Linked DNA regions of Homo sapiens: regions 1 and 2 are each linked to region 3. Evidence: fine-mapped expression QTL. A gene starts in region 3. Each other region holds a variant in brackets. All regions are shown on one strand. Distances are from middle to middle.

Region 1 (8,182 bases), 250 kb after region 3:
GGGTGCGCAGTTGCTCACTGCATTTGTGTACAGACTGTGCGCGCCACTTCTCCGCAGGCCAGATGGCTGTGTGTACTAACAGTCGCCAGACTGTGGTCCTTGCCAGCCTTTTCCCAGGAACTGCCACAGTGGGAAGGGCCCCGTGCACCACGCTCCCTGAGCCATGCACACCTCGACTGACTGGCCATGCGCAGGTACTCACCTGGCTGCGAGTACACGGTTCCCACGTCCATTTTGAAGGAGCCCACCAGGGTGCCACTGCGCAGCAGGTTCTTGGAGTGAATCACCTTTCAGGCAGAACCACAGCCCACCCGTCAGGCCCAGCAAGGGTGAGGCTTTCCATGGGGCAGTGGTGGGACCCGAGCTTTGTGGTGAAGTGGGAGGGCGTTGGCAGAGTGGGGTGGCTCACTGAGGCTCAGCATCAGCTCCTCCTGCCCACGCCAGTTTCTTGCTGGCCACTGTTTACGGGCGAATGCACTATTCAGAGGCATCCAATGAAAGGGGTGGGTGGGGGCCAGAATCCAGCCTGTCCCTACTTGCCCAGCCGTGTGTCCAGGCACGGCGCTGCCTCTTTATCATGGGTCTAGACAGAGGGGGCCCCTCTCAAGTCTGCACAAAGGTGCAGTTTGAGGGAGTGGCCCTGCCGGCCAGGGGCTGCTCCCCACTCACCGAAATCTTGATGATCTTGTCAAACATGACATCCGGAGAGACATGGAAGTCGAAGACGAAGTACTGGAGGGGGAAGGATCCAGGCCTGCTGTCACTGAGGGCAGCAGCAACAGCCCAGGCAGTGTTGGGCCCCTCCCTCCTCGCAGGGCCTGTCTGCACCCCAGACATTTGCCCTGAGCCCCAAAGTTCAGAGGAGCAGCAGAGGCAACTCATCTGATCCTGATTGACCCTGGTGGTGGGTGGTAGGAAGCAGAGCCCCATCCCCTAGGTGGGGCTGGTGCTGGCTAGTGTGGGGTGGGAAAGGAACTTGGAACAGTAGGTGGGACAGCCCATGCCCTTGTACTGTGCTCAGAAGAGGCACAGGGCCAGGGAGCAAGCAGACCTGGGTTCTAGTCCCCGCTCTGCACCTTCTTAACTGTGTGGCCTTGAGCAACACATTCTCTGAACCTCAGTTTTTTGAGCTGTGAAATGGGGATAATGACACCCACCTCAGAGTCTTGTTATGAGGCTCTGATGAGACAGTGTAACATATTTTACCAAATCTAAAGTGGCTACTGGCTGTAAGATATACTACGGTTTAATAAGCCACATGGACATTGCCATGAAGCCACAAGGCTGCCTAGGAGACACATCCCAAATTCAGAGAGGTGAAACTGTAAAATAACGCAAGCCTCAGAGCAGATGAACCATGGTGTGCCAAGCACTTAGTTGGCAGTCGATGTGAAATGCCATGGGTGTGCACTGTCCTTTGGTGCTGTGGGCTGCCATGCACATTTGCAGTCCCCATCTCTTCCCCTGGCCTGGGTGTGCAGGTGCTGAGGATGAGGGTGTGGGGCAGTGAGTAGAGGGGCTGCTGCTTTGGTGAACTGTGGTGGGGGAGAAGGGAGAAATATTTCCAATGTGCTTGGGGTAAATGTCCGAAGAGAACGTGCTCCTGGCTGCTGGGGGCTGGCCCTTGAGCACTGAGGGTAAAGCCAGCTTCAGAGCCAGCCCCACCTGGCTGTTACTGCTAGATCACTCACTTTCTTGCCTGAGCCTCAGTTTACCTATTATCCTATGAATGTGGAGATATGATCCAGGGCTGTCGTGCTGAACTGCTCCAGGGGTGCCATTCACTTGGGGGGCTTCAAGGTGTGGTTGTGAAGTTGCAATGAGACACCCTGGTCAAGTCTTTAACACAGGTGTGCACCACGGTAAGCACATAGCAAGCAGCGACAGCTGTGCATGACACTAACAGGCCCAGGGTGTGCTGGCCAGAGTTCTGAAGCTCTGGGGAGGCGGGTGGGGATATGGATTTGGGAATCGTCAGCACAAGATGGTAACTGACACCTTGGAGATGGAGGAGATACCTGGGGAGAGCATGGGAGGGGAAGCAGGCCCAGGTCAGGGCTCCAAGAAGACACAGCCTTTCAGCCAAGAAGTTAGGCCGGGGAGATGGAGCTGGAGAGACAGGGGAAGCAGGAGAGTGGCGTGAGGGGCCCCCAAGAGGAGCAGCAGGCAGCGGGATGAAAGAAACTGGGTGATCAAGGGAGAGGAGGATGACATGGACATTATACTCAGGAACAGCAATGTCCTTGGTGACCTTGAGGAGAGCAGTGTCAATGACATCTGGAGGCAGAAACCCTGCAGAGATTGAGGGGTGACTGGGGGGAGGAAGTGAGGACAACCCAAGTGGTCTGACTGTGGAGGGGTGGAGGGAAAAAGGAGGTCACTGGAGAAGTGTGTGGGAATGAGGAAAGGCCCAGAGAGAGGTGACAGACTCCTAGTTCCTGTCCTTGAGCACACATGGGTCTTCATGGTTGTACTTAGCATATGCTGGAGTAGAACACCTTATAGGCAAGGAAGAAGGGGCTGGAAGAAAAACAAAGACAGAGTTGGGCTGTGCAATGCCAGGTTCTTTGAGCTGTAGAAAGAGAAGGATCCAAGGCAAAGGGGAGAGGTGGATTTTCAGCAGGAGGAAGGATGGTGGCGCTCCCAAGATGCCCAGGGCGGGGCCAGATGCACACACAGGACACACAGGAAAGGAGCCTTAGTCTGGTTTGTGAATGGCCAGCTTGTTCCGGAAGGGCAAAGGTTTTGAGCTTCCCTGCACACAGGCAGGCTCAGGGCCAGGCAGGGTGATCAGGCCAGGTGCCCGCAGATGTGCCAGCCCCAGGGGAGCGAGCTAGCTGAGCTAGAGCCAGAATCCCGAACTCTCTGAGCTGTCTGCAATCAAATTCCTGTTATTTCCTGAGCATATTTTCCTTTTGTAATAGCTTAGATACCTAAGTCATGTTGATTGTTCCCACCTCCCTCTGTTGTTTTAATGGAGCCAAAGGAAGGTTCCTACCAGCTCAGATAATTAGTCAGAAATAATACATTCCCACGACGAGGAGGATGTCCTTCATTGAAAAGGAATGTGGCATAGAAAGAGAAGAAAAGGGAAACAAAGCTTTGGGGCTGGAAAGGCTGATTTGGGGCTGGAAGGAATCATAGTAAGATAGTTTAGAATGGTGGTCTCAACTGAGGGCGATTTCAGGGGACATTTGGCATGTCTGGAAACTTGGTAGCTGTAACTAAGGGGAGTTGCTATTGGCATCTACTGGGTAGAGGCCAGGGATGCTGCTCACATCCTACACAGCACAGGACGATCCCACCACAATTATCCAGTCCAAGATACCATAGTGCTGAGTTTGAGAAACCCTAGTTTAGAGGAAACAGAAACAAAATCAGAGCTATTTGGGTTTGTGAAAAAGAACAAAAATGTGATCAGAAACACATTTAAGATTGTCCAAAGATGAGCAGAATGAATAGTCAGTCTTAGAGGAAGTAAATAGGGAATTTAGAAAGATTCTAGGCTGAAACAAGGAGGGGACCTGCGCAGGGCGGAAACTGTGCCTCCTTCATCTCGGCAGCCTCCATGTTGCCCCACGTGCCACTGTCTGGTGTGCGGCAGATGCTCAGTGGATGTTTGTGTCTTCCTTTGGGTGAGTGTTACTGAACCCCTCCGAGTACATGCCTGGCTCTGAACAAATAGCGAGGCAGGAGACTGGGAGCCTCCAGTCCACCAGCAGGACAGAGACACGGAGGACCAACCTCAACTCCAGGACATTAACACTGCAGAGAAAGGGGAGTGCTGACCTCTGACCCAGACAGAGCAGGCAAGGCTGCTCAGTAGCAAGAACATTTGAGCTGGGCCCTGCCGGGTGAGTAGGAGTTTTCTGGGGGAGCCACAGAGTAGGGAGAGCAGCTCTGTGCCCTTGGGAAAGAGGAAGTAATTTGAATGAAAGCCAAGGTGTGTGGGCCTGGTGGAGGGAGATCCCTTAAGTTAGCAGAAGTGGCTTCACTGCTATCAAGTAACCACCGGGGCCACAGGGACCTGTCTCCATGCCTGTCTTGGGGACATAGATGCTTATCTAGGCGGAGACTTGTCCAGTCAGGATGTGTCCTAACGTAAGGCCAGAGATGTCAATCCTGAATGTCCTTGGGGCTGGAGGGGTCCTGAGCAGGTTGTCCAGCTCGGGGGGCCTGTGGGAAAGCAGCTGGGAGAGCAGAGTCAATTTGTGGTCACAAAGGAGAGTTCGGCCAGGCCTGGGCTGAAGGGCAGAGGTGGGCCTGGGTTTTCTTCCTGCAGGTGCACAGTCTGAGGACTCTCAGAGCTGCCTGAGAAATGCCCTCCCCCAAGCTACAGGGGGCACCTCAGCCCTCACCCACCTCAGGGTACGGGACTCAGCTGCCTTACTTGGGACAGCCTGGCACCCCTCACTGCCTGGAGCCACCAGGAGAAACAGACTGGGGAACCCTCCAGGAAAGGGATGGCAGGGCCCAGGCCTGTGGCTTCTGGGTTAGTCTGATGTGTGATCAGGCATCTGGGAAAGGCCTGGGCATCCTGGTGAGAAAACATTTTCAATGGTCCATTTTCAAGGCAGGATAAGTCTAAGTACTGGCATCCAACCTGCGAATGCAACAAACCACACGGCTCATGCACCTAGAAGGACACAATAAGCGAACAGAATGTAGAGGAGGGGTCAGCCCATGAAAGGGAAGAAAGTTTTGTTATTGGGAAATCGAA[A/T]CTTAAGTGGGGAAATCGAAGGGGAGCGGGGTATAACCTTGTAAGGGGGAAAATGAAACTTAGGCGACGTCAGGGAAGATTGTAACCCCATAGTGCTCAACCAATGGGGAAGTGGGGGAGGGACTTGCACACTAGGAGATAAATTCCTGTTGTGACTGCCCCAGGGGTGCCTGCCTACCAGACACTCCATCTTGCAAGACCGTTATTAAAAGTCTCACTTTCGCTGTTCTTCATGCCTCTAAGTCATTCTTTGGGTTTTGATGAGTGAGTGTATTTCTCTATTTCTCACATCCCTCCCCAGAGCTGATTATGATGGGGTCCCATCTGGAGCCTGGGAACCAAGGTGCCATATTTGTGATGGTGGCCAGAGCCCTGGGCTGGAAGCTGGGTGGGCAGCCTGGCCCCTGCTCTATCAGCAACACTCTCTGAGATTGTGGGCAAGGCCCTTCCATATGGAGGCCTCAGTATCCTCCTCTGTAAGATGGGGAGATTAAAGTAGAAGGTCTCTGAGGTCCCTCACCCTTGATGTGGCCTCAAATGGCTGGAAAGAATAGGAGTGGGTACCAAATGTTTTCTCTTTCACACCCTAAAATCAAGGCCAGTGCTCTGGAGAGAAGCCCGCAGAAGTTTAGGCAACCATGAAGGAGCCGAGCCAAGAGGGCAGAACCCCACTAGCACGCCAAGGGCGATGCTGGCACTGTGAGGTTGGACAAGGTCTGCCTTCAGAAGTCTCACTGTCCCCTTGTGTAAAAGGGAATTGATAGTGACAACTTTGGATGGTCCAGTTCAGAAGCATTTAGGAGCATGCCTGGCTGGTAGAAAGTGCTTACTAATGGTGCCAGTGCCACCATGGGTTGGAATGAGGCAGCCCTGTCCTTGGGCTCTGGCCTGGGAAACAGTGGGAACCAGGCCTCTTGGGGAGTGGGGTGGGGGGGGGTTCTTTCACAGGCACTGCTGGGGTCTGCCCAGGAGCACCCGGGTGGTGTACGCTTCAAAGACCAGTGTCGGCCTGTGCTCTAGACTGGGGGGTTCAGAGGATTCAGAAGATGTGGCTCTGTTTGTCAGTGTCCTGGGGGTTGTAACAGGGTGGATCACCCCTGCTGGTAGCCCTGTGTGCTCCTTGACTTCCAGCCACTCCTATTTCTCCTGGGGAGGGCTGGGGCCACCCTCCTGCCATATTTACAGAGGCTCCTTTCCCCACAGGGCCACTGACCTCGTTGTAATAGGGGCAGTTAGTGGACTCCTTCATGGATGTGTACTTCTTGTCGTCACCCACCTCCACGCACACCACAGGGTCCATGTTCAAGCCCACCAGCTGCCGGGCCTCGATCACCGTGATGCTGACCTGCAGGCAGGAGAAGGGGGAGCCAGAAGGAAAGCTGCCTGAGCCTAGGAGCCTGGTCCCGCAGGGGTCCAGGGGCTGGGGCAGCAGGGTCAGAGGGAGGGCCCGGGAGCCAGCACTGGCCTCCTGGGCTCCATTCTGACCACTGCCTCTCATCTGCTGGGTGATCCTGGCTCTTTCTCCTTCTATGCCTCAAGTGTCTTCATTTATAGAGGAGTATGAGTTGGCTAACCTCTAAGTCAGTGTTCACTAGACTTAACTTGCTGGGCCGAAGGGAGGGAGAGGCATTAAAAACACTGATGCCCAGGCCACCTCCAGACCAATCCAATCCAATCCTGGACATGCAGCTCAGGCATCTGTATTTTTATTTTTTTGATGGAGTCTTACTCTGTTGCCCAGGCTGGAGTGCAGTGGCATGATCTCGGCTCACTGCAACCCTCTGCCTCCTGGGTTCAAGTGATTCTTCTGCCTCAGCCTCCTGAGTAGCTGGGATTACAGGCATGCACTACCACACCGGGCTAATTTTTGTCTTTTTTATACAGATGGGGTTTTGCCATGTTGGCCAGGCTGTTCTCAAACTCCCGGCCTCAAGTGATCTGTCTGCCTCGGCCTCCCAAAGTGCTGGAATTACAGGCATGAGCCACCGTGCCCAGGCTGGAATCTGTATTTTTAAAGCTCCTAGGTGATGCCAAGTGCCCTGCGTTCTTCCCCAGCGTCGATGGCTCTGCTTCAGAAAGAGCTGCCAAACCCATGTCACAGGTTTCATGCACTCAGGAATAAAGCTTTCAAAGTCTTCATTAACTTGCATTTAATTTCCTGCTCCAGGAATTCTCATGTAAGCCTGCAGGCCTCTGATACGTCTTTGCATTTCTGGAATTTGGCTCCCCCCCCTTTCCACATTGTTTGCTGAATTTCTTTGTTTGTATGGCCAGTGCGGCTTTGGTGCCTGCCTGAGCCGCCTTTTTCAGCCTACTGATTGTATGTTGTGTGCACTCTGCTGTGTCCTTTATGTGGCGTCCAGCTCTGCAATCTTACTTATATCCTGGGAAGCCCTATTTCAGTTGTTCATTCATGCAACAAATGTTTCCTGGAAACCTGCTGGAGCCAGGCACAGGTGGGATTGCAACAAATTCTTCCTTGTGGAGCTTACCACAAATGATTAATGGCTTTTTTTTTTTTTTCACACTGAGTCTCTCTCTGTCACTCAGGCCTGGAGTGCAGTGGCATGATCTCAGCTCACTGCAGCCTCCACCTCCTGGGTTCAAGCGATTCTTCTGCCCCAGCCTCCCAAGTAGCTGGGATTACAAGCATATGCCACCCCGCCCGGCTAATTTTTGTATTTTTTTTTTAGTAGAGATTGGGTTTTACCATGTTGGCCAGGCTGGTCTTGAACTCCTGACCTCAGGTGATCTGCCTGCCTTGGCCTCCCAAAGTGCTGGGAATGCAGGCACGAGCCACTGTGACCAGCCAATTATTGGCTTTTTAAGCTAAAAAGATATAAGGACAGAGAGAGAGACAGAGAGAGAGAGAGCCAGAGCACCAGTAATTTTTGACATCACTACTACTTTTCCCGAACCCTCATTTTAAGCCATCAGGTCTCATTTGGATTTGGAGGTGTCAGTTCCTGTCAGGGTGGCCATGTTAAGATAGACAGAGGCATGTACTGGGGGTTGCTGAACTTGGGATTGAACCCCAGACCTGACATGTTGCCAGGTGTGAGGGCAAATGACCACATAGCCTTGTGTTTTTCAGTTACAAGCAGAGACACCAGCTACCTGTAAGGTTGTATGCAGGTTAAATGAGATCATGTGTGTCAAAATGCATCCTAAACAGCAGAAAGCTCTACAAAATGTGAGTGACCCCAACAGAATCTCCCTTCAGCTAAGCGGTTGATCTCTCAAGTAGGGAGCTTGTGCATGATACTTAGAATGATTGATTCACTTGCCTCTCTCAAACGTGTGTTTTAACAAGAAAAGCCTTTCCCCAGCTAGAATAAGCATGGACCTCTGTACATTCTTCTTTTTTTTTTTTTTTTTTTTTTTTTTTTTTTGAGACAGAGTCTCACTCTGTTGCCCCGGCTGGAGTGCAGTGGCACGATCTAGGCTCACTGCAACCTCCAC
Region 2 (8,182 bases), 35 kb after region 3:
TTGAGCTTCTGTATAGTTGGCAAGTTTTCCAGTTCATCTTTGCATTGGGTCTGCAGTGTGCTATCTGAAGTATCAGACGGTCAGTAAGAGAAACCAGCTGGCAGTGAGCAGAAAGATAGGTGTAAAGCAGACAGGGTCTTGAGTGGGAACTCTGTTTATGAAGGGTCAGTTCTTTAGAAATCATTTTCATGTTTAATCACTTTTGCTTTGCTGCTAAGCTTTGTGACTGATCATGAGACCTGATAACACAGATAGTGAGGACTCCACCCCATAATATATTTCATCATCATTCCAGCAACTGTCTTTAATAGGTTCTTTTAAGTATATTTGAACATTAAACAAGTTAAAATCAAATTATATATTGATATTCTTGAAGGCCCTGAGCAAAACATCGATAAGAAATTAGGTGAGTTAGGAGAGTATCATAGCCTCGTGTCTGCACTAGAAACCAGCCAGCAGGAATTTTGCATATACCTGTCAATTAATGGCAAGATTAAATATTAGTGAACCATTTCTGTGATGGACTTCATTTGATTTTAAATATTGCTCTGGAGAATGTTAAACTGAAACCGTTTCCAGATGACTATGAAGATTAGTGCTCAAAGCATCATTTACATGATGCCCTTCCCTTATAGTGATCATTTCATTCACTCTATTTCCTAAAGGCTGCCCTTGGAGCTGGCTTCTCTGACAAGACTCCTGCTCACACTGTCACCATGGCTTGTATCTCTGCCAACCAAGCCATGACCACAGGTATGTTTAAATGGAAACAGACAGTACATGTTAATTATTCTCCTTTGTCTTTTACTTGATTATAAAAATGTACTTTTTTTTTTTTTTTTTTTTTTAACACAGAACCTCACTCTGTCACTCAGGCTGGAGTGCAGTGGTACCATCATAGCTCACTGCAGGCTCAAACTCTTGAGCTCAAGAGATCATCCTGCCTTAGGATCCCAAGTAGCTGGGTCTACAGGTGCTCCACCACACCCAGCTAATTTTTAAATTTTTTGTGGAGACGGGATCTCGCCATGTTGCCCAGGCTGGTCTTAAACCTCTGGCCTCAAGTGATCCTTCTACCTCAGCCTCCAAAGTGCTGGGATTACAGGCGTGAGCCACCATGCTCATCCCAAAAAGTACTCTTAACAGAAGTAAAAGATTAGCACAGATCTCTATACTTGTGTTTTTTAAAAAGTAAGGTCAGGTTTAAAATTTGGGGGTTCTAACCGTAGTTAACCTCTTTTTTTGCTCTCCATACCTGAGGAACATTACCATTGGCGTGGTTCCTCTGTGAATAATGTGGCTGGCTGCAGCAGGGATTATCAACTGGAGGAGTGTATCTCTAGGAAGGTACTTCAGCATCTGAGGCATGAGTAAATAGTTTACAACCTGCCAGGCTTTCAACCTAGGTGCTTCAGATATGATATTTTCCCACAAAGATATGGTCTTCCTTCCTTCACCACTACCATACTTGTAAATCATTGCTTTAGATGGCACAGCTCTTTCCTTCACTTTCTCCTTACATCCTTGTCATTTTTATAAATCACTGAAAACCCCACTAACAAACTTTAGCAAAACTGTGGGATATTTTGTAGCATCAGCTCTTAGTGTGAGGAGGCAAGGAAGCCTGAAAGATTTAGTAATCATGTGCTCATCTAGTAACATCAAGGCCCAGGTGGGCACCCCACCTCATGTGTGGCGGGGAATGATGCCCGTGACTGGGGGCGTTCGCCACTCTAGGCAGCATGTGACCAACTCCTGGTTAGAGAAACAGAATACTGGCCAGTGGCCATAAGGAGAGAGGGGGCCTGCCTTACGTTTCAACAGCTGTAATTTCTCTGCTTTGCAGCAGAAGTTAACATTCTCTTTATAGGATAAAAAATCTTTATTAAAACTAAAGCTGGGAGCATATAAATATGCAAGATGTTCTGGTTTGGAATATGATTTGTTCAAGAGTTGGTCCAATGGATATTCCTAGAAGTTGACGTCCATATGGCAGGAATGAAACTTGTTTTTCTCTAACGTGTTGAATGTGTTTTTAGTCATTTAAGAAAATTACCTTAATTCTTCTGAAAAGTTGAAAACTTTAATTACAGATGTTGTACAAAGCTGATAACTGTCATTCAGCTTTTTAATCAAGAAGCTTAAATTGGAATGGTATGTTATTTTCTGTAAAAGATATTCATGAAGTATAACCTGTGCCCTGTAGGTGTTGGCTTGATTGCTTCTGGCCAGTGTGATGTGATCGTGGCAGGTGGTGTTGAGTTGATGTCCGATGTCCCTATTCGTCACTCAAGGAAAATGAGAAAACTGATGCTTGATCTCAATAAGGCCAAATCTATGGGCCAGCGACTGTCTTTAATCTCTAAATTCCGATTTAATTTCCTAGCACCTGAGGTAAGGCTTGTGTTTGCAGGGCATCCCACTGCAGAGATTTAGAATTAGGTATGGCAGTGTGGACTCTGCTATGCTGTAATAGGTGTAGATTCTGTAGTTACAGGAAAGGGTTAATTACTTGCTCAAGATGGAAAAAAAAGATAGTGGTTAGAAAACTTTAATTTGTGAGCCCTCTTTAGAGATCCTCTTTAGAGATCCTCTGCTTGTCTTGGACTTGATTGATTAATGGTAGACAAATAGATTTTAACTTTTCCAAATAACACAGAACAATCCTAGGTGTTAGCATAACACCGGTTAACAGTGTACCTGCTCCTTGGATATCTCCTTTCCCAGCTCCCTGCGGTTTCTGAGTTCTCCACCAGTGAGACCATGGGCCACTCTGCAGACCGACTGGCCGCTGCCTTTGCTGTTTCTCGGCTGGAACAGGATGAATATGCACTGCGCTCTCACAGTCTAGCCAAGAAGGCACAGGATGAAGGACTCCTTTCTGATGTGGTACCCTTCAAAGTACCAGGTGAAATGAAATGCTTCATGACACTTATTAGGGAGTTCTGAATTGCTCCTAAAACTCAAAAACATCCCGAGTGATTTTTCCATAAGTATGTTGGTTCTGTTTCCAAAGTATTCAGCCTTTATTCTTAAATATGGATGCAAATTTTGATTTATGTTGTAACAATAGGTTAACATTTTTTAATGTTTCTATAAGAGTGTCCTTTTAAGATCTGAGCACTAATCTCAGCACTTTGGGAGGCTGAGGCAGGAGGATCGCTTGAGGCCAGGAGTTCAAGACCAGCCTGGTCAACAGCGTGAGACTTCATCTCTAATTAAAAAAAAAAAAAAGAAAAACAGAGTCTCCTTTTAGATCTTGCTGATATATTTTAGTTCTTACATACATGCCTGTTTTTAAAATTCCTGAATCGTCTGACTTCTGTATAGAATAGCCAACTGTGAATGAATGTCTTAAGAAAATAGGGTGTCCTATTTTTAGTAAAGCATTTAGATGATTTCCCAATTGTCTTTTAAGACTTTAGTTTAAAATTTGATAATATGATAATTATAAAACACTTTCCTTCTAGTGAATAGGTAAGGTTTATATTTCATTTGTTTTTGTAATTTTTAAAGCATATTTCTGTGGAGAAGATATATAAGGCTTGTGGTTCCATAGAGTTAAAAAAATTCATTTTTTTAATAGGAAAAGATACAGTTACCAAAGATAATGGCATCCGTCCTTCCTCACTGGAGCAGATGGCCAAACTAAAACCTGCATTCATCAAGCCCTACGGCACAGTGACAGCTGCAAATTCTTCTTTCTTGGTAACTGTCAATGTTATTTGTATTTAGTAGTGACTTTTCTATTTCTGTACTCTCTGTAGAAAAGCCTAATATAACTTTTTGTGTGTGTTATGAATAGAGGGTTAAAAATATAGTTATTCATTTTAATGTGAAAGTGGAGTCATTAAAAAAAAAATAGAATCACGGTTTTAAGGCCCGAGAAGTCACCTAATCCAGCCACCATTCTGCCACAAAAGCTCTTCCTTTCAGGCACTTAACCAGTCAAAAACTTCTATTGCTTATGGTGGGCCCTGGAAATGAAAAGAATAGACAATTGCAATATAGTGAGATGCTGTGATGGCTGTAAGGCTTAGGTCGAACCCCTGACCCAGATGGGGGGACAGTCAGAGAGTCTTCTTGGAAGAGGTAACACTTGAGCAGCAAATCTTGAAGGAAGAGTAAAAGCCAACTCAGGAAGGATTTTAAAAGGCATTTC[A/G]GGCCGGGTGCGGTGGCTCACGCCTGTAATCCCAGCACTTTGGGAGGTTGAGGCAGGCAGATCACCTGAGGTCAGGAGTTCGAGACCAGCCTGAGCAACATGGAGAAACCCCGTCTCTACTAAAAATACAAAATTAGCCAGATGTGGTGGCACATGCCTGTTAATCCCGGCTACTCGGGAGGCTGAGGCAAGAGAATTGCTTGAACCCTGGAGGCGTGGAGGTTGCGGTGAGCCAAGATCGCACCATTGCACTCCAGCCTGCACAAGAGCGAAACTCCCATCTCAAAAAAAAAAAAAAAAAAAAAAAAAAAAGGCATTTTGGACAAAGGGAATAGCAAATGCAAAATCAAGGAAGTATGAGAGCAAGGGGTTCTTTGGGGAAAAGTTAGGTTGGAGCATAAGGTATGAACTGGGAAGTCGCAGAAGACAAGGAAAAGCAGGCAGAAAGAGTAACAGGATACCTCTTCCAGCCCTGATTGTTAGAAAACTGCTTTACACTGACCCCAATATTATTTTCCTGTAAGCATCATGGAACAAATCTACCACTGTTTGTTTTGTGTTTTTTTTTTAACTTATCAACATGTAGCTTCATATCCTTCCATGCTTTTCTGACTCCTCAATTAAACATCTTTATTGATTCTGCTGCTGCTTGTAAGATGTGATTTCTCTTCTCTTACCACCTTGGGTATAGTCTTCTGGATATAGGCCATCTGGTCAGAGTTTCTCTTACAATGTAACTCTCCTACCTGGCCATAAAGTCTTGAAAACATACGCAGATGTTTGACATATTTGCCCATGGTAAATGACTAATTAATGCCTGCTCTTGATAGGCTAGGGGAGTGGAATCTGGAGTAGTTCCAACAGGATGGAACACCACCCTGTTAAGCCCAGGTGGTGAAGAGCTGGTTAGGTTGGTCATTTGCAAAACCGAATTGGATGATAGAGCCATGTGGCATGGACTACACTTGCCAGATCTGAATCCTTTTGATTATTTCCAGGGTATGCTAAAGGTCCAGGTTTATTTAGTGAGAATCAGAGACACAAATCATCAGAGGTGACACATCACAATACATGGATTTTGGGGACTGCATTAGTGCCCCACATTCATTGCAATTTTGCACAATGGCACATTGAACCTGTTATTAATGTAATGTCTGTAAACCATTTATTCCATATGGTCACCTATGTCTCCAGACTTTATGGACACCCTATTGGTGGCTACACAGTCTCTTCAGGGTTGCCGAGTTATAAAAATACGACAGAATGTGGTAGAACTTATTTTGATTTTACAAATTATGAAGAATAGTTTCCTTTTCTTTGGAATTCTGAAGTTTTTGGGGGAGCTTTTCTTCTTTGAAGTATGGTAAAGGACGTTTTTTCAGTAGTACTTCTTTGTCCTCCAGCTTCTCGGTTGTCATTTGGGAAGAAATGTATGGGGTGTATCCAAAGAGGGAAGATTGTGGTTCTAATGTCCTCAGCTGGTTCTCCCATTGGTTTGCTCGTTACAGAATATATAAGTAGAATAAAATGACCTGTAAGCCACGGGCAGAAAGCAGCTGAGAGCCCAGAAAATGTAAAAATAAATAAATAAGAGATATGTTTATTTTGGTTCATATTTTGTGCCACAAGCTAAAAACTTTGGCTTAAATAAGTGTTTAGTGTTTATTATGAGCAGTTCTTTCTTTTTTTTTTTTTTTTTTTTTGAGACAGAGTCTGGCTTTGTCACCCAGGCTGGAATGCAGTGGCACGATCTCAGCTCACTGCAACCTCCGCCTCCCAGGTTCAAGCAATTCTCCTGCCTCAGCCTCAGCCTCCCAAGTAGCTGGGACTACAGGTGTGTGCCACCACACCTGGCTAAGTTTTTCTATTTTTAGTAGAGATGGGGTTTCACCGCGTTAGCCAGGATGGTCTCAATCACCTGCCTCATGATCTGCCCGCCTCAGCCTCCCAAAGTGCTGGGATTACAGGCATACAGGCATGAGCCACCACGCTTGGCCATGAGCATTTATTTCTAAAGTTACCTCTTCTGTTGATTCATTTTGATTATTATGATACTTTTGAACAGCCTTCTCTACCCTCATCCTCCAAAAATGAGTCAGCGTGTGTATGTTTGAATTATGATTTAATGATGGATACAGTGAAGTAAGTGTTGTTATATAGAATCACTGTATAAGTCTAATGAGTTAATAGATTCAGGTACAGATATATAAGATGGCTGGAGAAAGACCTCCAGACAGGCTGAAGAATTTTAACATTGTGCTGGTTAACATTTCAGACTGATGGTGCATCTGCAATGTTAATCATGGCGGAGGAAAAGGCTCTGGCCATGGGTTATAAGCCGAAGGCATATTTGAGGTAAAGTAAATGTTCAAACAAATCATCTCTGATTTCTTTATTTTATTACCAAAGCTCACCTCTCTATTTTTTTACCTAGGGATTTTATGTATGTGTCTCAGGATCCAAAAGATCAACTATTACTTGGGTAGGTAGCAGTTTGTATCCTTGGACTATAATCACAAGTATTTGATTGCCTATGTTTTATTATACTGGTTAATAAATGATTAACACTGGTTTATTATTTATTTGTTTATTACACTGGTTTGAGAGTATATTAAGCCCTGAGTTCATAATTGGTTTATGTGGTGGTTTTTTTAAAAAAAATAATAGTAATCTGGCCGGGCACGGTGGCTCACGCCTGTAATCCCAGCACTTTGGGAGGCCGAGGTGGGCAGACCACGAGGTCAGGAGATTGAGACCATCCTGGCTAACACGGTGAAGCCCTATCTCTACTAAAAATACAAAAAATTAGCCAGGCGTGGTGGCGGGCGCCTGTAGTCCCAGCTACTCGGGAGGTTTTGGCAAGAGAATGGCATGAACCCGAGAGGCAGAGCTTGCAGTGAGCCAAGATCACGCCACTGCACTCCAGCCTGGGCGACAGAGCGAGACTCCATCTCAAAAAAATAAATAAATAAATAAAATAGTAGTAATCCTTTCCATTGGTATATCATGTTACAGTTTTGGATTATTTTCCATTTTTTTCCTATAAGTTTTACATATATATATGGACACACACAACTTATATTCTTTTTCATTAAGATAGCATATGCATTTTTTCATATGGCTACACACCCTGCTACACAATCTTCCTAATATAGCCTTTTATAAAAGCCTCCCCATGTTTAGACTCTGTTCCGTTCCCTCACAAGGCTGTAGCCTCTAGCCTCCACTGTGACGTTCACATCAGTCAAGCCCTTTCCCTTGCCTTGCTCTTTGAACTCTGTTCTTCCAGTTCTTCATGTTATTAGCTTGTCCTTATCCCTCACTGTTTATTTATTATCAATTTCTCTGACTCTGCAACATAAGAGTAGAGGGCATGTCTGTACAGTTTCACTATTTTATCTTTAACATTTCATTAATCAGTACAGAAAAATCAAAGAATGAGTGAAAAGACATTAGAGTACCTATGTAAAACTCAGTTTGGGGAATATGAAGGAGCTCTTAGTTTAAAAATTAAAGTTTTAAGATATTACTTATTTTTTCTTTGCAGACCAACATATGCTACTCCAAAAGTTCTAGAAAAGGCAGGATTGACCATGAATGATATTGATGCTTTTGAATTTCATGAAGCTTTCTCGGTAAGTAATTTGAAAGACACATATGAAGGGACTATAGTCATAAAAAATGTCATCCATATTTGTGGGAGAGAGCAAGGCATGGTTTATGATGTGAGTAGAGCAGGAGTGGACCTGCATATTTTAAGTACTGATTCACACTGCTGGGAGGGGCCCGAGGGGAGGGAAGCAAGGGCCACACATACAGTGTTGGAGAACATACCAAATTGCTTCTTTAGGAAATTGCCATTGAAAACTGATACAAAGATTTGTTCAACTTTACTTTTTTTTTTTTTTTTGGAGACAGAGTCTTGCTCTGTTGCCCCAGCTGGAGTGTAGTGGCACGATCTCGGCTCACTGCAACCTCCGCCTTCCAGGTTCAAGCAATTTTCTTGTCTCAGCCTCCCGA
Region 3 (8,182 bases):
ATTTGAAAACATTACTTTGGTTGTAATAATCAACAGCTTTTCTCAAGATTCAACACTGGGAGAAGCGACGAGATTAAGGAAGTGAGAATCAAATTTAAAAATACACAATCTATGGCCGGGCGCGGTGGCTCACGCCTGTAATCCCAGCACTTTGGGAGGCTGAGGTGGCTGGATCACCTGAGGTCGGGAGTTAGAGACCAGCCTGGCTGACATGGCGAAACCCCGTCTCTACTAAAAATACAACAACAACAACAAAAAAAAAAAAACAAAAAAAAAGTTAGCTGGGCGTGGTGGCAGGAGCCTGTAATCCCAGCTACTCTGGAGGCTGAGACAGGAGAATCACTTGAACCCGGGAGGCGGAGGTTGCAGTGAGCCAAGAGCGCACCATTGCACTCCAGGCTGGGTGACACAGTGAGACTCCGTCTCCAAAAAAAAAACCGAAAAAACAAACAAACAAAAAAACCATCTATTAAGGTATTTGCCTCTAAATTCATCTCCTGTGAAATTATTTTACTACTAATACCTATTTACTACTAAATACCTAATTAGGAATTTAGATTTAGGATAGGAGTGGGAATTAGACAACATACTCTGGTCAAGAAGTGATTTTCATTTGATATTCACATTCAGAATTATAGCACTTGTAGAGAAGGAATGCTTTAAAATTTCAAGAATTACAAGTCTCCTTCAAGATAATTTTTTTTTTTTTGAGATATGGTCTCATTCTGTCCTCCAGGTGTGATCTTGGCTCACTGCAACCTCCACCTCCTGGGTTCAAGCGATTCTCCCACCTCAGCCTCCCGAGTAGTTGGGATTACAGACGTGTGCCACCACACCTGGCCAATTCTGGTATTTTTTGGTAGAGATGGGGTTTCACCATGTGGGCCAGGCTAGACCTCAAGTGATCTGCCCGCCTTGGCCTCCCAATATACTGGGATTATAGGCATGAGCCACCGTGCCTGGCCCCTTTCAAGAGAATTTTATCATCCACCAGCAAAGGTCATAATCTCATTAAATGTTTGGCAAAGCCTTGCACAGACTTTTACTGTGAAGGATCTATTGAGTCTAAATAGTAATATAAGGGTGCAGGTCATTTTAAATTCACTTTCCAGACTTTTTTTCAAAATTTATAAATTGCTATTAAGGGATCAGTAACTACAACGAATGATACTTTCTTACTGGTGAAAACACAATGCAAAGTATATATTTATGTGTCTATATATTTCTATACAGAAAACAGAAAAATTAGGTTGGTAGCTTTTTATTACACACATAAGATGTACAAATTACTTTTAAAAACTCTCAGATATATACAATCGTATTTCTTCCAGGCTGGAGTTAATAATATTTACTGAGTGCTTACTCCATGAAAAACTGCTTGATATCTAAAATAACTCCTTTTCATCACACAAGGTGGTATTATTCCCCATTTTACAAATGAGAAAACAAACACAGAAATTAATTGCCCAAGGTCATCAGAGGGTAAAAGGCAGAGCCAGGTCCAAACCCAGAAGTCAGACTCCAAACAATGTTTTTTTTGTTTGTTTGTTTGTTTTTGAGACGGAGGACCAGGCTGGAGTGCTGTGGCGCGATCTCGGCTCACTGCAAGCTCCGCCTCCCGGGCTCACGCCATTCTCCTGCCTCAGCCTCCCGAGTAGCTGGGACTACAGGCGCCCACCAACACGTCCGGCTAATTTCTTGTATTTTTAGTAGAGACGGGGTTTCACCGTGTTAGCCAGGATGGTCTCGATCTCCCGACCTCGTGATCCGCCCGCCTGGGCCTCCCAAAGTGCTGGGATTACAGGCGTGAGCCACCGCACCCGGCCCAAACAATGTTTATTAATTGCTCTGTCATGCTACTTCTCATGCAAAGGAAATCCATCATCTCAATCATTCATTTTGCAGATGAGGAAAATAAAGCCCATTTAGTTTAAGGCATTTGTCCAAAGTAACACAGCTAGTGACTAGAACCACGTGCCCTGGCTACCACTTCCGAGTGACATCAGCTGCCGATCCATAAGAAATACCTTCAAACCAATGCAGGGGTAAGATAAAAATTACACGTTACTTTTCAAAAGTGTTGTGAAAATAGGGGAAAAAAACCACCAAACCTGTAAGGAAACATAACCGAAGGCTAACCGTAGGTAAGCATATGAGTAGTAAGACAATGGGTGATTCGTTTTTTTTTCATCTCTTTCCTCAATCCTTACAGCATTTCAATGTTCTATAATGTGCTTATGTTATAATTGGCAAATACATGCTACAGTTTTGTGGAGACTAAAAACAGCTGTTGAAAAAAGGGAGCAGAAAAATATTCAATCATTAAAAAAATCCCCTTACAGTAAGGGATTTCAGCTACTTGTCTAAAAAAAGCATACTACTTCAGCGGTTCCGGAAGAGGGAAGAGAGGTAATTCATATTACAAATTAAATTAAAAGTTAAAATTTCTAGTTAAGTAACTTATTAAGCACAACATGCAATAAAACGTTGTCCACTTTTGACTTTACAGATTTGGGATGGAAAGAAAATGCAACGTTTCCTACAACCACCCACTTTAACCCTTTCACTGCCAGTTTGAAAAGGAAAAACACTAGCTAATACAGGCTGACTGGGAATCATCAGATTACAAATCGTTCTCAGAACGATCTAACATTTTATTGCTTAAGGTAGAGGTATTAGCGTATTTTTAAAGTGTGTCTTCCAGTAAGTTGCAGAACTTCCCGCTGAAATTCAAAATACTATACGTTCACACTGACATTACTGAAACTGCAAGAGTTGAGCTCCCTACTTGATTGGGGTAGTAAGCACAAAAATGGTTTTGAGGGAACGGAGCAGGGAGGGGCAGTGATCTGCAAGGCTGATTAATCCCATACAAGACAGCGCTTGTTGCGGGGTAAGGTGCTGTTTTTAAGACAGCTCTTGTTGCGGGGCAAGGTGCTGTGGAGCCACAAAGATGCGACAGAATGGATCCCGATTCTCCTGGAACTCCGGATCAAGAAAATATGAGGGGCGTGAGCCCAGAAGTGCGACGCAAGAGACCCGCGGAAAGGTGACAGAACGAGTGGCACCAGACTCAGAAAGTTGGGGAGTTAGGAAGCCTGAAATCGCCGCAGGAGTCGTGAGAGGGGAAGTGACAGTCTCTTCAGAAGGTCACGGGAAACCGGGTCCCAGGGCAGTATCCCCACAGAGGGCTGCGTCTCCGGGCTGGGGCAGGCGGCAGCGAAAGGGAGACGCGGCTCCGGGGCCACCCCAGTCCCGGCAGGAGTTCTGCCCGGAGGTCTGGGATGCCCTCGGCCAGGCCTCACCTCGGGAGCGGAGGATCCTGAAGGCAGAAAAGCGGCTGAGGATGCCAATCGCCCGGCAGGCCACCATCTTGAGCTGAAGAGGACAGCAGTGGAGAGCGCCTCTAACGGGTGCGGCCGAGCGGAGGACTTTTCTCCCGTAGCCTGGCAGCCAGGCGCCTGGAGCACTGCCTGACTAAAACCCAGATGCCGAGTGGCCGCCGGCCCCTTAGCCCTGCCCCTCGCTCCTGGCTAACATGGCCGAAAGGTCGTATTCTCCGGGGGAGGACGGGGGCCCGGAGAGGAGGGGGTGGAGTGCCTGGTTTTCCAGTCAGGCGGCCGGAGGGCAGCCCTCAAGAACGGCCCTGACCGCCCGCGGGGTGAGGGGCCCTTTCTGGGCAGGACCCGCCCCTTGGTCCCGCAGAGCCTTGGTACTTGGACCTGAACCTTGCTCCGAGAGGGAGTCCTCGCGGACGTCAGCCAAGGTGAGACGGCGAGCCCTCAGCTCTCCGCCCGGGCTTTCCCAAAGGCGAGATTCCACTTCCTTCCCCGCAACTGTCGCCGGTGCCCCCGGCCCCCTCCCCTCCCTGGGAAAGTGGGAGTTGAGGGAGCGGAAGGAAACTCCTCGGACAAGGTCGGCAGTGCTAGCTGCAGTTAGGACAGTGACTTGGACTAGCGTTCCAGCTGAAGTTCGGGACAGTAGTGTCACCTGCGCCCTAATTTATCATCACAAGTTAACGAAGTCTGGGGGTGTGGGGGTGTGTGTGTGTGTGTGGGTGTGTGTGGGCGTGTGTGGGCGTCGGCCTTAATGTAACCCTGGTCTGCGTAGAAGTGTGTGTTGTTTCGCCTGCTTCCCCTGTACCCAGGTCGGCGGCTATAGAGATTGTGGACGGCGCCATGGGTTTGCCCGATTTCTGCTGTAAAGAATAAGACTAGGTCAGGTGACCTTTCGGGGCTTGAGTGTGGGAGGAACGGAGACAATCCTCCATCCGGCTCCGTTATCCAGATAATCCTGCGCTCTCGGGGGTTTTCCGATCTGGATGATTATCTATCTGGTCGTTCACACCTCAGCTCACTTAAGCGGTGAAGAAACTGCCTACGAATCAGAGAGAGTGATTTTACCCATGGCCATATGTAGTAGAAATAAGACTGGAGCCTAAGTCTACTAACTCCTAGTGAAGAGTTCTTCATTGCATGGTAGCTGTTTTTGTGCTGGAATGATGGGCTGGAGTCCTGGAATAAAGTGATTGATTTCAAAAGGAAGTCACATTGAGAGCCTGCTGTGCTCTGGTCACCTTCATACCTTTTTGTTTAGTCCTCACATTCCCCAAATTATTATCATTTGCATTTTCTAGATGAAGTTTGGGAAGCTCAGAATATATACATTTTCTAGTCTGTGACAGACCTAGCATTCAGACATAAGTCTGAGTCTCACTACTCGCCAGACTGACAGCTCTGCAGGACAGGAAACAAGGGGCATCGAAGTTAAGACTGAAATGAGTATAGAGACAGAGTAGAGAGGTTTCTGTTTAAAGCTCAAGTTGCATAGTGAGTGCTCATCATGTGAGCACTTTAAGCAGAAACTGGATGACCTGACCACTTCTGAATAAATTGCAAAAAGGATTCTTGATAATCTTACAAGGTTTTTACAGTTCAGAGCCTGCCTCCTGCCCATGTAATGCTTTCTTCAACACCTAACTGCGTGTAACACTTATTATTTAGGTCAGAAGTGGTAAATTTTGTTGTTGTTGTTAAAGGTCCAGACAGTAAATAGTTCAGGATTTGCAGGATCACTTTGGTCTCTGTTATATATTGTTTCTTTTGTTTTGTTTTGTTTACAACTTTTTTTTTTTTTTGAGACAGTTTTGCTCTTGTTGTCCAGGCTGGAGTGCAGTGGCGCGATCTTGGCTCACTGCAGCCTCCTCCCGGGTTCAAGTGATTCTCCTGCCTCAGGCTCCCGAGTAGCTGGGATTACAAGCGCACACCACCACGCCGGGCTAATTTTTTGTATTTTTAGTAGAGACGGGGTTTCACCATGTTAGCCAGCCTGGTCCCGAACTCCTGACCTTAGGTGATTCGCCCACCTCTGCCCCCCAAAGTGCTGGGATTACAAGTGTGAGCCACCACGCCCGACCTTACAACTCTTTAAAAATGTGAAAAACTATTTTTAGCTAGAGGCCCGTGTGTTGTAGTTTGCCAATCCCTGATTTAGATCACTCATTTGGCTCCATTTTTTTGCTCCCTGTGCTTTCTCTACAAAACTAAGCTCCATCAGGGCAGAAATGTTATAATGTTTCTTTGATCCCTAAGCACTTTAGTCCAATGGTTTATATAGAGGGAAACAGTACATTTGTATCACCATCTCTACTGGTAATAGCAAACACAGGTATACCCCTAACTGTGTATCAAGCACTGTTTTAAGTGGTGTGTGCACGTGGGTGTGCGTGCGTGTGTGTGTGTGCGCGTGCGCGTCCTATGTGGTTAAGTAACTGGCTTAAAGTCATACAGCTAGGGTGAATCAGGATTTGGACATAGTCTGGCTTTAGTTCTCTTAACCATTACGTTGTGTTTCAAAGTTGTAATAATGAGCTGTTAGAGCCACCCCATCTTGCTTTTGTTTTCATTACTTGCCTAGACTCTTCTTCCTTTCCCTTGCTCCCAGGTGCCTGCAGCTTCGTGTATCTTTCCATAGTTCACACCTTACTCAGGCTTACCCTAACCAACTCGATCCTACCCTACCCTACCCTGGAGTTTCCATGCTTTGAATATTTTTACCAAAATTTCTGTTTTCTGAAGTTTAGCAAATGACAGAAAGGTCAGCTCTGCTATAGGATAATTTGCTTAGTCCCTCTTACTTTTGAAATCTCTATTTTTTATTAACTATTGAAGGAATACATATTCCATGTAATTTTTTATTCAGAAACTACAGAAAAGTCTAAAGAAAATCTGTAATTCCACCACCCGGAGATAACTACTTTTAACATTTTGATGTGTATTTTTCTGGACTTTTTAAAATGCATTTGTATATTTGTATATATTTATATAAGATATTGATGTACAGTCGGCCCTTGGTATCTGTGAGTTCTACATCCTCAGATTCAACCAATGTCTGAGTGAAAATGTAGTTAGGCCTACAGTGGTTTCATTTGTCCTGAACATGTACAGACTTTTTTTCTCATCATTATTCCCTAAACGATACAGCATAACGACTATTTACATAGATTTACATTGCATTCGGTATTGTAAGTAGTCTAGAGATGATTTAGAGTATGCATGAGGATGTGTGTAGGTTCTTTGCAAATAAATACTATGCCATTTTATGTAAAGGACTTGAGCATCCTTGAGGTTTGGTATCTGAGGGGGGTTCTGGAACCAATCCCCCTTGGATACTGAGGAACAACAGTATATATAGATTTTAAATAAAACTAGAATTATGCATAAGTAAAATGCTTATTTTAAAAAAATTAAAGAGAACAGAAGAATATTAAATAAAAGCCTTTCTTTATCCTTCCATGTCTAGACTCATAGCTTCAGGGACTTTCTTTTCTCTTTCTCTCTTTCTGTCACAAAATGGTTGTTGTAGTAGGGTTTACTTACCCATTTCCCTATTTTCCAGTTATTCTAATCTATTATTCTAATTTCTAATACACATTGTTCTGTAGCTTGCTTTTTCATTTAATATATATTATGGACATTTTTCCATGTCAGTATATATACATGTACATCATTTTGTTTCATTTTCTTTTCCAAACTGCCAAACAGTATTCCATGGTGTGTTTATACTATAACTTACTTAACTGTTTCCTACTGATGTGCATTTAGATTAGTTACGGTTTTCCACAAATATAAACAGTGCTATAGTGAACACCTTGAGTATTTCTTTTTTTTTTTTTGAGACGGAGTCTCGTTCTGTCTCCTAGGCTGGAGTTCAGTGGCGTAAGCCACCACCCCTGGCCCACCTTGAGTATTTTACGCTAGAGACCTATATATGCTATACATACATTTTGAATATTTCTATAGGTTAGAGACCAATAAAAGGCATTATTGGACTCAAAAATTCACATTTTAAATTCTGATCTATAACTACAAAATTGTCATCCCAAAAGGCCTTAGCATTTTACATGTCTTCTAGTGTATGGAAGTGCCTATTTAGTTAGATGCATTCTTACTAGAATTATATATTAACCATATTTTCAATGTTTGCCAATCTGAAAACCACAAAATGATACCTTGCTTTGATTTAAAAAACAACAACAACAACAACAAAAAGGCTGGGCGCAGTGGCTCATGCCTGTAATCCCAGCACTTTGGGAGGCAGAGGCGGGCGGATCACCTGAGGTCAGGAGTTCAAGACCAGCCTGGCCAACATGGTGAAACCCCATCTCTGCTAAAAATACAAAAATTAGACAGGCGTGGTGGCACGTGCCTGGAGTCTCAGCTACTCGGGAGGCTGAGGCAGGAGAATCGCTTGAACCCAGGAGGTGGAGGTTGCAGTGAGCCGAGATCGCGCCATTGCACTCCAACCTGGGGGACAAGAGTGAGACTTTGTCTCAAAAAAAAAAAGAAAATCACAACTTTTTGTTAGTGAGGTTGAACATTATACATTTTGTTTATTTGGCATTTTAATTTCTTCTGTGAATGGCTTGTTTTCTCATTCTTGCTTTTGGTCATGTATCAGGAAGGAGTCTTTCAGTTGCAAATAACAGAAAATTCAAATCAAATTGGCTTCTTAAAGGGGATTTATTAGTCCGGGCGTGGTGGCTCACGCCTGTAATCCTAGCACTTTGGGAGGCTCAGGAGTTCGAGACCAGCCTGATCAACACGGTGAAATCCTGTCTCTACTAAAATAAAAAAAATTAGCCTGGTATGGTGGTGTGCGCCTGTAGTCCCAGTTACTCGGG

Which allele goes with the higher level. Positions count from the first base shown, and alleles are read on the strand shown. Sizes are in standard deviations (SD) of each study's normalised expression. Not every link is listed here.
In carriers of allele A in region 1, the expression in monocytes after R848 of the gene that starts at base 3,715 in region 3 tends to be higher than with T alone (moderate effect, 0.73 SD a copy in Quach 2016).

What was found. PIP is the estimated chance that this variant, and not a neighbour inherited with it, causes the effect.
Region 1: its variant is fine-mapped to the expression of HADHB in monocytes after R848 (Quach 2016, PIP 0.95).
Region 2: its variant is fine-mapped to the expression of HADHB in blood mononuclear cells (TOPMed, PIP 0.96).

The regions. Positions count from the first base shown.
Region 1 is chr2:26,489,009-26,497,190 of GRCh38, forward strand. It overlaps OTOF (otoferlin), which reads right to left. Exons shown (of 47, transcript NM_194248.3): 9 at 5,934-6,065; 10 at 670-732; 11 at 203-287. Among named protein-coding and RNA genes, the nearest start is that of OTOF, 66 kb to the right of the region's middle. RefSeq lists a silencer at 798-1,040 and an enhancer at 4,638-4,787. The variant A/T (reference allele first, on the strand shown) is at 4,721.
Region 2 is chr2:26,276,408-26,284,589 of GRCh38, forward strand. It overlaps HADHB (hydroxyacyl-CoA dehydrogenase trifunctional multienzyme complex subunit beta), which reads left to right. Exons shown (of 16, transcript NM_000183.3): 7 at 666-753; 8 at 2,207-2,394; 9 at 2,728-2,908; 10 at 3,587-3,708; 11 at 6,438-6,517; 12 at 6,597-6,644; 13 at 7,710-7,797. Among named protein-coding and RNA genes, the nearest start is that of HADHB, 36 kb to the left of the region's middle. The variant A/G (reference allele first, on the strand shown) is at 4,163.
Region 3 is chr2:26,241,225-26,249,406 of GRCh38, forward strand. HADHB (hydroxyacyl-CoA dehydrogenase trifunctional multienzyme complex subunit beta) reads left to right here and starts at 3,715. Exons shown (of 16, transcript NM_000183.3): 1 at 3,715-3,766. It overlaps HADHA (hydroxyacyl-CoA dehydrogenase trifunctional multienzyme complex subunit alpha), which reads right to left and starts at 3,408. Exons shown (of 20, transcript NM_000182.5): 1 at 3,306-3,408. The coding sequence starts at 3,372. RefSeq lists enhancers at 1,224-1,764, 3,250-3,930, 3,785-3,884, 4,743-5,470.